Regions from separate parts of the Homo sapiens genome. Here region 2 is linked to region 1. Evidence: fine-mapped expression QTL. Tissue or cell type: whole blood. Region 1 holds a variant in brackets; the other region holds the start of a gene. All regions are shown on one strand. Distances are between the middles of the regions.

Evidence for each region. PIP is the estimated chance that this variant, and not a neighbour inherited with it, causes the effect.
Region 2: ISL2 starts here. The variant in region 1 is fine-mapped to the expression of ISL2 in whole blood (INTERVAL, PIP above 0.99).

The regions. Positions count from the first base shown.
Region 1 is chr15:76,221,434-76,229,540 of GRCh38, forward strand. ETFA (electron transfer flavoprotein subunit alpha) reads right to left here. Exons shown (of 12, transcript NM_000126.4): 11 at 4,416-4,496. Among named protein-coding and RNA genes, the nearest start is that of ETFA, 86 kb to the right of the region's middle. The variant G/A (reference allele first, on the strand shown) is at 4,103.
Region 2 is chr15:76,332,477-76,340,583 of GRCh38, forward strand. ISL2 (ISL LIM homeobox 2) reads left to right here and starts at 4,297. Exons shown (of 6, transcript NM_145805.3): 1 at 4,297-4,465; 2 at 5,302-5,491; 3 at 5,776-6,038; 4 at 7,800-8,083. The coding sequence starts at 4,408. RefSeq lists enhancers at 4,032-4,326, 4,138-4,637, 4,331-4,380, 4,806-5,617, 7,165-7,234 and 2 more.

The DNA of each region.
Region 1 (8,107 bases):
AAACCCACTGAATTGTACATTTTTAAATGGTGAGTTTTATGGTACGTGAATTATATCTCAGTAAAGCTGTTATACTAAAACAAACAAAAAACAGGTGGTGCCCTATGCCCTATCACTGTGACTACAATTATAATATTTACCAGCACCTACTATGTACCTGGACAGAACAGGCAGGCTAATATTTGTCACAGACTCTATTAGTATTAGGTACAGTATAATCTCATTTAATCTTCATTACAACCTTTAAAGAGGTAGTGTAATATTTACATTACTTACAAGCAAGCTGATGTCCAGAGATTAAATAACTTAGCCAAGATAATTTAACTAGTATGTGGCCAAGGCAGAATTGGAATTAAAGCTCTTAATTACTATAACATATTATTTCTGAGGGAAAAACAAACTTGTCCTTTATAACTAATGATTGTTGAAGGGTCAAGCAAAACAATTAATATAAGAGAATAAAATGTTATGCATATTCATTTTTACTCCAGATACGGTTCTACTTGGTGAGCAAAATATCACCTAGGGAATTATTAGTCTAACAGCTGTATATACATGTTATACATGATACAATTTGCAATTTAAAATTTTCACACAAAAATTAGGCTAAAAAAGTCCTTTCTGTACGCTATTATTTGACTTCTATTTTCTTTAGATCATAAGCCAAAATAGGTAATGCTAATTAATTCTCACCCATAATTTGTATAATTAATTGTATTTCTTAATGTTATATAAAGATATTACCTTATATGTTTCTTAATGTTATATAAATATATTTTTTAAAATTATAATTTTAAAATATAATTACAATACATAAAATACAAAAAATAAAAATAAAATATTAAAAATATAAAATATATAACATTAAGAAATATAATTATACAAATATTGTATTTTTTATTTTTTAATCAAAAGTATTAAATATTTGATTTTTAAAATATTTTAAATATTTGATTTTTTAAAAACGAGATCGCCCCAGTAAGGAATATATTCACCAAACCACTTTGTCTGTGCTCTTGTGTCAGAATTACTACAGTATTCACCTACAATAAGCTCATTCTGATTTCAGCTGAGAAAACAACTTCATGCGTACTCTGTAGGTTCCTAGAGTCTGTCAAAGGTGCGATTTTTACTGCACCTTATCCAAGGTACAATAGTAGTGGTGAGCCACCCAGCTGTAGTACCTGCTGAGCCAGAGAGGCAGAGAAATGAGAGAGAAGGGGAACAGAAGCAGGACCCTGGCTTAGTTGTGCCCATAACCTGTGGATTGTCCCAAATCACATCTCTCTGGGACAGGCAACTTAAAAAGAATGCACCTGGCTTGTGTTACTCACATGGTAACAAAGAGGAGTCTGCCATATGTTTAATATTTTTATAATCTTTAGTTTTTTTCCCCCAAACTGAATTTTTTTTTTTTTTGAGACAGGGTCTTACTCTGCTGCCCAGGCTGAAGTGCAGTGGTGTAATCATGGCTCACTGAAGTCTCAATCTCCTGGGCCCACGTGAACCTCCTACCTCAGTCTCCCAAGTAGCTGGGACCACAGGCACACGTCACCAGACCCAGCTAATTTTTGTATTTTTTGTAGAGATGGGGTTTCACCATGTTGCTCAGGCTGGTCTCCTACTCCTGGACTCAAGTGATCCGCCTTTCCTCGGCCTTCCAAAGTACTGGGATTACAGGCATAAGCCATTGTGCCTGGCCTCCCAAACTGCATTTTTTAAGGAGTGATTAACTTCTCTACTTTTGTATTAATCAAATACATATATAACTGTACTTCAGAACTTTTTTTTTTTTTTTTTTTGAGACAGAGTCTTGCTCTGTTGCCTAGGCTGGAGTCCACTGGCACCATCTTGGCTCACTGTAACCTCTGCCTCCCAGGCTCAAGTGATTCTTGTGCCCCAGCCTCTCAAGTAGCTGGGATTACAGGCATGCATCACCATGCTCGGCTAATGTGTTTTTCACAGTTTTAGTAGAGACAGGGTTTCACCATCTTGCCCAGGCTGGTCTCAAACTCCTGAGCTCGGGTGATCCACCCGCCTCGGCCTCCCAAAGTGCTGGGATTGCAGGTGTGAGCCACCGCTCCTGGCCATGTACTTCAGAACTTCTAAGCTGTAGGAGATAGTCATTGCCTTAACACAATTCTAGCTAAAAGAACATAAACATGATATCTTGGTCTGAAGTCTCTCTCTAGTCCAATGTGGGCTTCCTAAAATACCAAAAGGAGCCTGAGAACCTGAAACTGGAAGTCAGCTGACTAGATGATTTTTAAGGCCTCGTTCCACTTCACTGTCTTAGGACTCTTTCTCACTGAGAAACCTCCGTGTCCACACACATGCATAGTCTCATGCCAAACCTTGGAGCTGCCCTTAATGCAGGAGCACAATGTGTGTGACCCCATTCTATCAATAATGACTACAAAGAAGCTCCTGCCCCAAGGCAGGTGTCCACTGGAAGAACACTGAAAATTTCCAACTGCTTAACAGTTTATCTTTTTATCATGAAAGCCCCCATGTGAGTTTTAATACATAGTACACAGGCAGACAGAAAAATGTAACAAAATTACTTACAAGTTTATTAAAATATTCTCTTGAGGAAAAAAGGCAACCACAGTAGACATCTACTTGCAAACATGGATGAGGTTCAGAAAGTATTTAATTTTGCTTTTAAATAAAAATAATATTTACCCCCTATTCACACCAATAGTAAGAACTGAATTCTTACTACGTGAACAAAGTTATCATTACACAGAGAAAAAAAAATTCTCTTTTTCATACCAGCCCCCCTTCCCACTGGAACATCTTAGTGGGAAAATGACTGGCATTACTGTTTGTTCTTACACACTTGGGCCAGGCAACATGAGCAGCTGACCTACCTGAATCCCAAATACCAAATACAGAGCTTCAGGGTTACTGAAGAGGGGTAATGTTTTTCCCAAGCCAAAATCTAAGCTCTTTGGCGGGGGCCTTCTGAGGGGAAGTATGCCCAACACTGAGCCAGAGCAAGAGCCCCATCCTAGTCTTTGCATGCAGTCTGAGCCATCACGGAGTAATCGGCTCAAGGGTCCTATTTCCATCCTTCACTGAGCATGAACATACTTCAAAGTACAAATGTACTCTCCAAGCACACTCACTAGGTTCCTCTAGATCATATGCAGTGCTGGTGAAGTCACAGAAATGGGCCAGTCCTCTTGCTGAGGGAACCACCTGTAGCTCTGTTCTCAGGCTGAAGCCTCTCCACTAAGGCCCATAGCCCCTCGCTGTGGTTCTACATGAGGGGTTCCTCACCCCAGCAAACCCACTTCTCCTAGGGTTGGATGCTATTTTCAGAGTGTCAATTCCTGCATAAGTGATTTCTGCATAAGATAACCTAGAAACGTGTAGGCAGACCCAGGAAAAAGAAGAGACCAGGCCACGCATGAGTCATGACCTTTAAATGTAGCCAAATGAGTATCAGGTGCTCATCACCTGTAATTCACTAATTAATATCATGAAAGTAATTTTTCTCATGGGAAGGTCAAATATGGAGGTGACGGCAAGAGAGAAGGAACACTCAAAAGTGAAGAGTGTGAGGAGTGAGAAATAAGTGCTCTCCCTACACTCGTCAGCTAAGGAAGGCCATTAACCCACAAACACAGCAAGCAGAGCATTCCTATTGAGACAGATAAGCTGGATATGGGTGCCTACTCTCCCCTGAAAAGCTCTAGCATTCTTGGCAAATCCCTGAATAAGGGGGTTTGATGTTAATTTCTTTAGGGTACCTGCCAAATATGATTCCAGGTTATAAATTACTTGAATCACTTCACATTGTGCATTAACTTAGCACATGAGATGCCAAAAACCATGTGGGTTTTTTTTGTTTTGTTTTGTTTTTGAGACAGAGTCTCTCACTCTGTCACCCAGGCTGGAGTGTAGTGGCACGATCTCTGCTCACTGCAAGCTCCGCCTCCTGGGTTCACACTATTCTCCTGCCTCAGCCTCCCGAGTAGCTGGGACTACAGGCGCCTGCCACCACGCCCAGCTAATTTTTTGTATTTTTTAGTAGAGACGGGGTTTCACTGTGTTAGCCAGGATGGTCTCGATCTCCTGACCTCATGATCCGCCC[G/A]CCTCCGCCTCCCAAAGTGCTGGGATTACAGGTGTGAGCCACCACGCCCGGCCGCCATGTGGATATTTTAAAGACAATTTGGACTCTTTCTTAAAAGGAAAGTTATAATGCTCTATATAAACAACACATATCTACTCTTAGAGCAACTTAACTTTAAGTAGGTCAAAATTGTGTACATATATTAACAGTATACATACAAACACAGACACACAAACACACAATGTTTTCTTTTAATAGCTTCATCCCTAACCATTTCTGAGAGTTTCTCGGATGACAATCTAGATAATAGCAATTTCTCTCAAGGCCAGCTTACCTTAAATAAATCTGCAACTATTCCATAATCTGCCACTTGGAAAATTGGAGCTTCTGGGTCTTTATTAATTGCCACAATTGTCTGTGAAATAAAAACAAAGAGTTTGACTTTTACCAAGAAAACATTTCACACAGACTGATAGTTCTATTTTAACTTCCAATATATTAATATTCTTAAAATGTCTACCAAATAAGATTTGAGGCATCTGTGTCAACACTGTAAATTTATTAGAAATTTCCAGGTTGGAATGTAATAAAATTCTCTCTTACCCACATCTAGCCCATCTCAGTATTAAAGAGTTTAAAATCATTATTTTTTAAAAGTTCTTCTTTTGACTTACAAAAAAAATATTTGATTTTAGGTGAAAAAGTAACAAATCTATACCCAAATCCACAGCCTTTGTAGTGCAAATTATTTTGTCCTTCATTTATTATTTTAAAATTATTATTCTGGAGGACAGGCACAGTGGCTCATACCTGTAATCCCAGCACTTTGGGAGGCCAAGACGGGTGAATCACCTGAGGTCAGGAGTTCGAGACTAGCCTGGCCAACAGGGTAAAACCTGTCTCTACTAAAAATACAAACATTAGCCAGGCATGGTGGCATGTGCCTGTAATCCCAACTACTTGGGAGACTGAGGCAGGAGACTCACTTGAACCTGGGAGGCAGAGGTTGCAGTGAGCAGAGATCACGCCACTGCACTCCAGCAGTGAGACTCTGTCTCAACAAAAATAAAAATAAATAAATAGGCCGGGCACGGTGGCTCACGCCTGTAATCCCAGCACTTTGAGAGGCCGAGGTGGGCAGATCACAAGGTCAGGAGATCAAGACCATCCTGGCTAACACGGTGAAACCCCGTCTCTACTAAAAAACACAAAAAATTAGCCGGGCGTGGTGGCGGGCATCTGTAGTCCAAGCTACTCGGGAGGCTGAGGCAGGAGAATGGCGTGAACCCAGGAGGCGGAGGTTGCAGTGAGCCGAGATCGCGCCACTGCATTCCAGCCTGGGCGACAGAGTGAGACTCCGTCTCAAAAATAAATAAATAAATAAAATAAAATACAATAGAATAAAATAAAACAATTATTCTGGGATATTCTAACAATATGAAAGCTAAAGTATCTTGTCAGCCTGTTAGTAAGGGACGTTAAACAGCTTTAAGTCCTTATGTACATAGCAAATAGATTAATAAAAGAAGCAAATTACTTATATCTCTTATAAAAGCTGTCAAACATTTCTCTTATTTGCTATAAAAATATTCTTAAATGCAGGCCAGGCATGGTAACTCATACCTATAATCCCAGCACTTTGGGAGGTGGAAGTGGGAGGATCACTTCAGCCCAGGCGTTCAAGACCAGCCTGCGCAACACAGGGAGACCCCATCTCTACAATAAAAAATAAAAGCTTATGCCTGTAATCCCAGCACTTTGAGAGGCTGAGGCAGGCGGATCACTTGAGGTCAGGAGTTCGAGACCAGCCTGGCCAATATGGTGAAACCCCACCTCTACTAAACACACAAAAATTAGCCAGGTGTGGTGGTGCGCACCTGTACTCCCAGCTGTTTGGGAGGCTCAGACAGGAGAATCGCTCAACTCTGGGAGGTGGAGGTTGCAGTGAGCCAAGATTGTGCACCGTATGTTAGCATGGGTGACAGAGTGAGACTCTGTCTCAAAAAAAAAAAAAGGAAAAGCTATCATTCAAATCATTCTTTTATTAATATCAGATAGTTTATCAGTACAAATAGTTTGGTATTCCCCACAGATGCTTCTAACACCACTGCAGTTAGACTCTAATGTAGTATTATTTTAATAGATTGTGGACTAAAAATAATTCAAATCTCTAGAAGTAAAATTAAGTTTCTACCTACCTGGCATTGTATGTTGTGAAAACAGCTGGTATTAAAAAATACATTAAGTATTTTGATGTAGCCTGACTTAAAATACAGGCTACAGGATATCCAACATCTGTGTATTTCCCTTAGAGGGGTTCCTCAGAGAGATGTGCAGAAGATGCCAGAATGTCTAAGATTGGAACATGGTATAGTCCAGGTAACTGCTAATCCAGAGAAACATGCTACACACATTAAGATGCATAGTCAGAGACAATAAACAAGTTTCAAACGTGAGCCTCAAATCCAAAGGCACAAGAACAAACATTCTGAATTGCAGGTGTTGATTTGCATTGGCGTGTTTCTCTTTTGGGAATGTGTAACCTGCTTCACGGCGATAAGCAGAGATTTGTTTAGTTATTGATGGTAAATTATTCTTCTAGAGGCCACTTAGTCAGACATCTGGGAGTTTAATCATCCGAAAGCTTTTTCATTATACTATATAACAATTGTTATTATCATTATTACTTTGAGACAGGGTCTCATTGTGTTGCTCAGGCTGGAGTGCAGTGGTACAATCAGCTCACAGAAGCCTTGATCTCCTGGGCTCAAGTGATCCTCCCACCTCAGCCTCCTGAGTAGCTGGGACCACAGGGGTGTACCACCATGCTCAGATAATTCTTTCATTTTTTGGAGAGATGGGGTTCTCACTGTGTTGCCCAGGCCACTCTCCAACTCCTGGACTCAAGTGATCCTCCTGCCTTGGCCTCCCAAAGCGCTGGGATTACAGTGCCTTGGGATTACAGTGCCACTATGCCTGCCTTAAAAGTTATTTTTAAAGAGAGAGCATATAACTGTGGGCAAGGAACCACTACAGTATTTAACAAAAAAGATGTGGGGCTGGTTATTGTTCTTCAGATTATTAAAATAATATTCCTAAATAATCAATTGTAAAGAACTATGATAAAGTCTTGCTTGTATCCAAAGCTCTCTCAATAGCTCCTCACAAGCTCAAGTTCTTCCTCCTTACTAAGCTTTGAAATGCATAGATTGTATTCAACCATATTATTATTATTACTTTTTTTTTTTTTTTTTTTTTTAGATGGAGTCTCGTTCTGTCACCCTGGCTGGACTGCAGTGGCGCGATCTCGGCTCACTGCAGCCTCCGCCTCCTGGATTCACGCCATTCTTCTGCCTCAGCCTCCCAAGTAGCTGGGACCACAGGCGCCCGCCACCATGCCCAGCTAATTTTTTGTATTTTTAGTAGAGATGGGGTTTCATCGTGTTAGCCAGGATGGTCTCGATCTCCTGACCTCAGGTGATCTGCCCGCCTCGGCCTCCCAAAGTGCTGGGATTGCACGTGGCCTCAACCATATTACTGTGTATTAGTTCAGAAAGTGCTTTCATTAGATTCATTTGATTTAACAATCAAATCTTGAATTCCTTCAACTAAACCAGGATTCTAATTAAAATTGCAGCTTGCAGGGAATGCAACTGTCAGATTTAAACCATTCTAATATCCCATTTTAGAACTAAAGACTGTCTCCTATGCAGATAATGGGGCTATGACAACACAGGACGACACAGACAACAGGATAAGACAGTGACAACAAGGGCTATATCTTTTTAAGCATTCCCAGCTTCTAGTACAAGGAATGGTCTTAATAAACATCTGTTGACTAGATGGAGATACAAAGTCTTGGCTGACCCCCAACACCAGTCTCCTTACTTCAACTGTTCCCTATTTGCTCTGACGTACACTACCTAGTGTCTCTCCCACAATCCAGCCCTGTTGGCATGGGGTGAGAATTTTCACTGGTATCTTCTTGACAGGCAGAATCTTTTATTTTTAGAGAAGCAGAATTCT
Region 2 (8,107 bases), 110 kb after region 1:
GGCACTTTAATGAGACCTCATACGGCTGCTTAGCCCAGAGCCCCAGCTACAGCACGTGCTCAGTAACTTAGGGAAGAGAGAAGGGGACTCAGGAAGGAGTGAGAGGGGCCCAGCAGTGCCTGTGGGTACCTGTTTGCTCAAAGGGAATCTGGGGTTGGGGAGGCAGGCAAAGCTGGGGAGAGAGCATGGGTCTTGGATGTCAGGAAGCCTGAAGCCTGACCTTGACTTGCCAAGTTTCTTCCTGCCCCCAGGCCTTAGTTTCTTCTTTGAAACATGGTGCTCCATCCCTATCTCAAAAGCAAGTTCTCAGATGCCTGTGGTGGGTGAAGATGTGGATGCTGAGGCTGTCTCTGGCCTGCTGTATTCAACATCTCCAACTACCTTTGGAGAAGAGTAAAAGCCTTTGGGAGTGGGGCAGAAGGAGAATGGAGGGGGATGGAGCCTGGAGCAAGAGGAGAAGCCTGGTCCAGTGACTTAAGCTGGGCAGCAAGGTCTCAGCCCTGGACAGCAGAAGATCATCCAGAGGGAGTCCAGCAGGAAGAGGTCTGGCCTGGGTTAGGGGACCTGGCTTCCGGCTCCATCTCCATCACATGCTGGGTAACAGGTCACCAGGCCTCAGTTTCCTTCCTGATATTCACAGTAGGACTGATGCTCCCACACTAGCAACAGCTTCCTCTGTGTTGGCTGGACATTGTGCATGGGGCTGTGCCTTTGTAAGTGATGTGGTAGAGGAGGTTTTGGGGAGAAAATAATCAGGGAGACTTCTCTGTGCTTCTGAACTCTCCCCAGTACAGGCTAGTTTTATGGGATAAAGCATAGCTATGGAGCTCAAGCTGCCATTCCTGATAAGGAGAAAGTGATCTAAGACCCAGGATAGGAGGCACCCAGGTCTCCTGCATGCCAGCCTGGGATGTGGAGAGTGTGTGGCCCCTCCATACCTGAGAAGGGAGCAGCCAGGAGGCAGAGAACCAGGGTAGGGCCACATCAATGGTGCCTGTGGCCGTGCCCAGCAGGTGCAGGTGTTTTCTTCTCCCATGTCAGTGCTGGTCTCTCAGGGGTGGCTGTGACCAGAAGTCACACATGGAGTGATTTTGAAATGGATCCCTGGTTTTACAGCTCCAGAGATGTGAAATGGGTGAATGATGGAGCTACACTCATGTGGCTCTTCAATGGCACAGTGAAAAAAGCAAGCAAGATGGAGCCAGATAGACCTGGGTTCAATGCCAGCAATGATTTAACCTGTGACCTGAGGCAGTAACTTCCCCTCTCTGAGCCTCAGTTTCCTCGAGGATTGGAGGGGCCCAATACTACTCACCACATGGCATTACTTTTAAGACCTAATAGGCTAACAACAAGGACTTTGCACATGGTGGCCCTGAACAAATATTTGTTTTGACCTGGCTTCCTAGCATCCCAGGAGGGGTGACCCTCTCCAATCCCCACCTCCCTAGTGAAGTTTCAAAGGACAGGTTTTTCTGGACGGGAAGGAAGAGTTTCTCTGGGCAGGAGACGGTTAAAAGCTGGGACTACGATTCCAGCCTGGGGCTGCCCCCTCCTGGCCAGCTGTCTGAACCCCTGAATTATAGATGTGCTTGCTCCTGGCCTGGCGAGCAAGAGCTAGTAGGTGCTGGGAGCCAGGCCTAGTCCAGGGTCACCTAAGGGTAGGGCCATTGGGCCAGACGCACCTCCTCACTCCACATGCAGACACACACACCGAGTCCCCTCCCAGTTCTGACTGTGCACCCACATTCACAGATATAACCTGTACACAAAGTCTATGCACAGACCACACATCTCCAAACCCCATCTACACAGCAGACACACACACAGCAAGCACACATCGAAATCACAAAGAAATCATCAGATGACACATACTGAGACATACTTAGACCTCCCCTCCCCATCCAGACACACGCAGGCAGGGTGGGCAGAGGCTCCCAACATAAAGATACAGCCACAGTCATAACTGTCATAATTAACACATATGGAGCACTTACTCTGTGCTAGGTATTGCTCTAAGCCCTTTCCAGAGAACAGTTTATTTAATTATTATGTAATAGAGATAGCTACAATTATTATACCCCCATTTTACAGATGAGGAAACTGAGGGAAGGAGAATTAAAATAAGATGCCTGAGGTCACACAGGTGTCCTGGCACAGCCTCAGGCACAGATACCCACCCCCTCGCTCTTGTCCCCCATTTACATAAACACATTCATTCAAACGCAGCATCCCCCAACCCCTGACCTGCCCGCACACACTCAGGGTGAGCGCTCTTTGGGGGACTGTTGACTAAAGACGCAAGAAATGGCCTATTGGCCAACGGGTGGTAAACTGTAACAAGAGCCGGTCCGGTGGCCCGGCGCGGTGGCTCACGCCTGTAATCCCAGCACTGTGGGAAGCCGAGGTGGGCGGATCACGAGGTCAGGAGTTCGAGACCAGCCTGACAAACATGGTGAAACCCGGTTTCTACTAAAAATACAAAAATTAGCGGGGCGTGGTGGCGCTCGCCTGCAATCTCAGCTACTCAGGAGGCTGAGGCAGGAGAATCGCTTGAACCCGGGAGGCGGAGGTTGCAGTGAGCCGAGATCGCACCATTACACTCCAGCCTGGGCGGCACAGCAAGAGTCTATCTCAAAAAAAAAAAAAAAAAAAAAAAAAAAAAAGCCGGACCGGTGAGAAGACTAGACCTCCTAAAGGTGGAGGCGGAGCTCAAAAGCCGGACGCTACTGGACGAGGCTTAAAGCGCTCGCCCCAGCGCGGGGCCGGTGAGGAACGTTCACCGTGGACCATGGTCGAATAATGTTAGCGTGCACTCGGGGCCTCGCCCTAGCCTTCTGCAAAGCCTCGGCCTGCGCCCTCGGCTGCATCCGTTTCGACGCCAACCAACCTCATGCTCTTAGTAGAACGGCAGTAGCGACCGCGCCCTCAGGCCCACAAGCCCGAAGGTCTGGGCAGGGTCTGGAATGGCGGTGGAGACACTTTATCCGCAGGCGTTTCACCTCGCGCCCCACCCAGGCGCACACCAAGTTCTTGGTACTCCTTTTAATGGGAAAACAAGAACAGACACCATGGTTGGATAAATGTTATTTATAATTCATGGGCCGGTCTTTGAACCCTTTCAAACAAAACCCACAGCGATTTCTTTGAAAGAATGCCTGGACTGTGCTCAGAGCTCTCAGATTTTCTCAGGACCAACGAGCCGCCGCCTCGCAGATACCACTGTAAATTACCCAGCGCCTTACGTTCGTTTCTGATTATTTGCATTGCAGTGGGTTTGTTAATGAAGGACAAGAGTTTAGAAAAATCTTTTATTTTGGAAGTTGGACACGCAATCGACCCCAGCAGTGTTCCTAAAAGGAGCTATGCCATTTGGATGGGGGAAAAATGAGGGGGCGGGGAAGTCCATGTTACATTTAAAACAACAACAGCAACAAATTAAAAGCAAAACAAAACAACAAAAAAAAGGAAGTGGAGCAGGAGGAGGAGGTGGTGGTGGAGGAGAGGGAGGAGGGGCAGCAGCAGCGGCAGCAGCAGCAAGGATGGAGTCAGGACCCGTCCCAGTCCCGGGTGAGCGCTTTTGGATCTGGGTTCTGGCTCAACCCACGTAATGCCCCAATCTAAAGTTTTCTACGTGTGTGTGGATAGGAAAGTCTAAATAGAGTTTATCAGAACCCAGGTGGTCATTCTCTACACTCTCTCTAGCTTGGACCCGAAGAACAAAGGCACATGAGAGGAGAAAGGTGACCAGCTGGACGATGACGGTCACGTCCAAACGGATCCCCCTTGTCCTCGGCTCTCTCGTCCTGAGAGTGGGTTTAATTTTTTTTTTTTTAATTTATATAAGAAGGGAGCTCTTAAAGGAGAGCCATCTCCACCCTCAGGTATCCATCACCCAGCTCCAGCGCGCCTGGGAAAACCGCCCCGAAAGTCCAAGAGGAAGCTCAGAGTTGTAACGGCCGCGGAGCCAGCTCGGCGGTGACGCAAGGTCCAGTCCAGATTGCCAGGCCCGGGGCATGAGAGAGGATCCTTGTAGGTTTCGGAGGTGGGGGGGCTGCACTCCATTGTTCACTCCGGGCCAATCAGGGTTGGCCCACTTCCTCCCAGCCAATCTCCCTTCACCCCCAGCCTCCAACCCAACCCACCCCGCCCATCAGCCCCTGGATCCCCATCACCTCCCCCGCATCCCCGGCAGTTCTGGGGAAGCTTCGTGACGCCACAGGTCCCGCCCCCAGCTCCGGCCCGGGGCTAGTGCGTGTTGACGTCATGCTGCGTGCGGGCCGGTGCGGAATCGCTCCTTCAACTCCGCGGGGCAGTAGGAGTTAGTTAGCAAAGAGCCGAGGCCGGGCGCGCGACCCTCGTCCTTCTGCCCCTGGCCGCACACTTTGCGCACATCTCTTTTTCTGCATGGTGGATATTATTTTTCATTATCCTTTTCTGGGTGCTATGGGTGATCATTCCAAGAGTAAGTATTTCTGTGTGTGTGTGGGGTGGGGTGTGTGTGTATGCTTAATATGCAAAATTTCTAATGCAGAAAAATGTTTAGTGGATTCTACAAGTGGCTTCTATTTGTCAGAATAGTTTAGGAGAGGAAAAACGAATGCATGTCTCCTGCAGGACTGCTTATCTTTGGGAATCCTGTTGTTTTATTTTATAAGTAAACACTATTTCTCAAGCCGGCTAGGATGACTTCGGGCTGCGAAATCTGCTTCTGTTTTGCGCAAAGGCAATTAGGTTTGATTTAGGGATGTGGGTTTTTTTTTTTTTGGTTGTTGTTTGTTTGCCTTTCGGTTTTTCAAAGCTAGGAAGCTTTCTTTCGCTTGCTCTGGGATATTTAAACTAAGAAATGTCTGAGAGGATGAGCGGGGACTGCCGAAAGACGATGTGTCTGTGTTGGGATAGGAGGCAGCCGCTGTGAGTGGGAGTGTGTGAGCGGAAATGCCAGGACAGCACCGTTAGGTGTTGATATCCAGGCGTCCGCAGTGCCTGTGTATTTACTCTCTTCTTAGTTTCGTGTTTGCGTTTAGTTTCAAGACACGTCGACAAAACGACTGTCATTAATGAATGTAATAACGAAATATTTGGGGTGGGGGACAGAAGAAACCTTCAGCAATCCACAAGATACTGGTTTTTCGTTTCCAATGCCCTGGACCTTTAGAGAGCTCATCATCTTTCCTTATGGTCGCAAGTCTTGAAAGAAAGAGCAAGAGAGCGAGCGGGTTGGGTTGGGGCTGGAGTAGCCGAGGCCGGCCTGGGTCCGGGCAGTCAGGCCTGACGCGGCCCCGCGCCCTTCCCCGGCAGAGAAGCCCGGGACGGCCATGTGCGTGGGCTGCGGGAGTCAGATCCACGACCAGTTTATCCTGCGGGTGTCGCCCGACCTCGAGTGGCACGCGGCCTGCCTCAAGTGTGCCGAGTGCAGCCAGTACCTGGACGAGACGTGCACGTGCTTCGTGAGAGACGGGAAGACCTACTGCAAGCGGGACTATGTCAGGTGAGGCCGGCGGGAACGCGGGCTGGGCCACCGCGCGCAGGGGCCGGGGCCGGGACTGGGGATGGCGGCCTGCCCGCGCGCCCCGGCCCTGCCCAGGGAGAAGGCCATCCGCATCCCGCACGGGTGCCGCAGCGCTCCCCCGGGCCCGGGAATGCCCGCAGGCGGGTCACCGCAGTCTCCTGGTGGCCACAAAGTGTCCTGGGCGCGCGCCGGAGCCGTAGCAGCCAGGGAGATGAGGGCGGCCGCAGGCCCAGCGCTGACACCGCCGCACCTTGGGCCCGCAGGCTGTTCGGCATCAAGTGCGCCAAGTGCCAGGTGGGCTTCAGCAGCAGCGACCTGGTGATGAGGGCGCGGGACAGCGTGTACCACATCGAGTGCTTCCGCTGCTCCGTGTGCAGCCGCCAGCTGCTGCCTGGGGACGAGTTCTCGCTGCGGGAGCACGAGCTGCTCTGCCGCGCCGACCACGGCCTCCTGCTCGAGCGCGCCGCGGCCGGCAGCCCGCGCAGCCCCGGCCCGCTTCCCGGCGCCCGCGGCCTGCATCTGCCCGGTAAGCGCGCCGGGGCCTGTGCCGGGGTGAGCGGGGTGTATGTGCGTGCGTGTGTGTAGGGGTACGCTTGTGTCCCTAACGAGAAGTTGTCAGTTGTGTGTGGTTCCGTCTGCCGGGATAGTGTTTTTCTGTATCAGTGCGGAACTGTGTGCTGGGAACAAGGCTGTGTGTATTCTCGTGTGCTCGGGAGAAACTGCGTGTGTATGAGTGTGTGAGCACGGAGAATTGTGCAGAATCGTGTTCTCCATGACCAGGAACATGCAGGGCACAGTGCTAGGAGCAGAAGAGTGGATGACAACAGGGAATCTTAAGTGGTGTCCGTCTTGGGGCTTGTATTAGGAATTTCTTGGAGGAATATGTGTTATTGTCAGAGGGTAAGGTTTGCCCAGGGGTATGTGTGTAAGTAACACAGCTCCAAACTGGGAGCTGGGCAGGAGCTTGGTCAGCCAGGAGCCAAGAACCCAACAAAGAGGGGTTTTTGCCATCTTGTTTTGAGGCCCAGTTTGATGAACAATTTAGCCAGGTTCTTCTGGGGGAGGGGGAGTATCAATGCATAGTGGACTGTCACTGGAATATTCTGGGTCCTAATCAGCAGCTGCCCAGAGATGGGGTCTGAGTGTATAATGGGCAGGTACGGCTGAACAGAAACAGAGGTGCCTCCACCCCAGGCAAGGCAGTTTCCCCCAGGTAGCCATAGGCCTGCAGCACAGATCCGTAGACCAGGCTGGGCCTCTGGGTGCTGTGTGGCCTTGCCCCGCTCCTCCCCTCTCTGGATCTTCACTTCCTCCCTATAGAAAGAGGAAACTGGGCTGGATGGGCTATTTGTAAATATTTGTCCAGACCTAGAAATTCGTAGAGGGGAACATAAACCGAAATGGTGCAGTACAGATCCACGGTATATATGGGTCGGGATCAAATGGAGATGTGAAATGGGAGCAAGCGGGTATTCAGTGCACCCCCATCTGGGATCTCGGAGAGGCTCCCCTTTGTTTGTTTCGGGCTTCAGGGTGCAGGCTCTGGAATCAGTCACTGTTTCCCCGGGATGGAGAGAACCTGGGGCCAAGCGAGGAGAGTGCCAGCGGCTGCTCAGCACCTTGGTCGGTGGGAGGCCACTGGGCTGGGGAACCTGGAGCCTTGAGGAAGGAGACAGGGGCCGAAGCCCAAGGGCGGGCAGGAAGGAACTGTTGCAAGCCCTGGAGGCCCGTCCATAACCGTGGATGAGTCTTCTACACATGTGGCCTGGCCCTGTCCAAATGGGCTCTGAAGGAGGGGAAGGGCCCTCGTAGGCCCCCGGCATATTCGCACCTCCCACCCAGTCCCCTGGGCAGCGCCTCGCCCTGGGTCCACGTCGGTCCCTTTCCCTCTCCAGAGTCCTGGGCAAGCCTCTTTCCTCTTCCTCTGAAACTCCGACTTCTTCCGGAGGGCTTCGCTCGTTCCGAGGGTCCTGCGACTGGAGGAGGCACATCCCTGAGCAGCCACTCCCTCCCCGCAGCGGCCTGTCGCCGAGCTCCCGCGCCCTGCTTGAGCTCGGGAGAGATCGCTGCGGGGCAGTCCGGCCCGGGAGCGAGAGAAAGAACGAAAATGCACAGCTCTCTCCGAGTAAGGCGAACAGATGGAGAGGAAGACGAACAATTAAACGAAACAAACAGAATAAAACAGAAACGAAATCGGGCCCCGGGGGGCTGGGCCACCCGGAGGTTGGGCTCGGGGCGGGTGGGTGGCGGCCCCTCGCTAACCTCTGGCCTCACCCTGTCCTGGCAGACGCTGGGTCGGGCCGGCAGCCCGCGTTGCGCCCGCACGTGCACAAGCAGACGGAGAAGACGACCCGCGTGCGGACTGTGCTGAACGAGAAGCAGCTGCACACTCTGCGGACCTGCTACGCCGCCAACCCGCGGCCCGACGCTCTCATGAAGGAGCAGCTGGTGGAGATGACCGGCCTGAGCCCGCGGGTCATCCGCGTCTGGTTCCAGAACAAGCGCTGCAAGGACAAGAAGAAATCCATTCTCATGAAGCAGCTGCAGCAGCAGCAGCACAGCGACAAGACGGTGAGCAGCCGCTGGGCCGGAGGC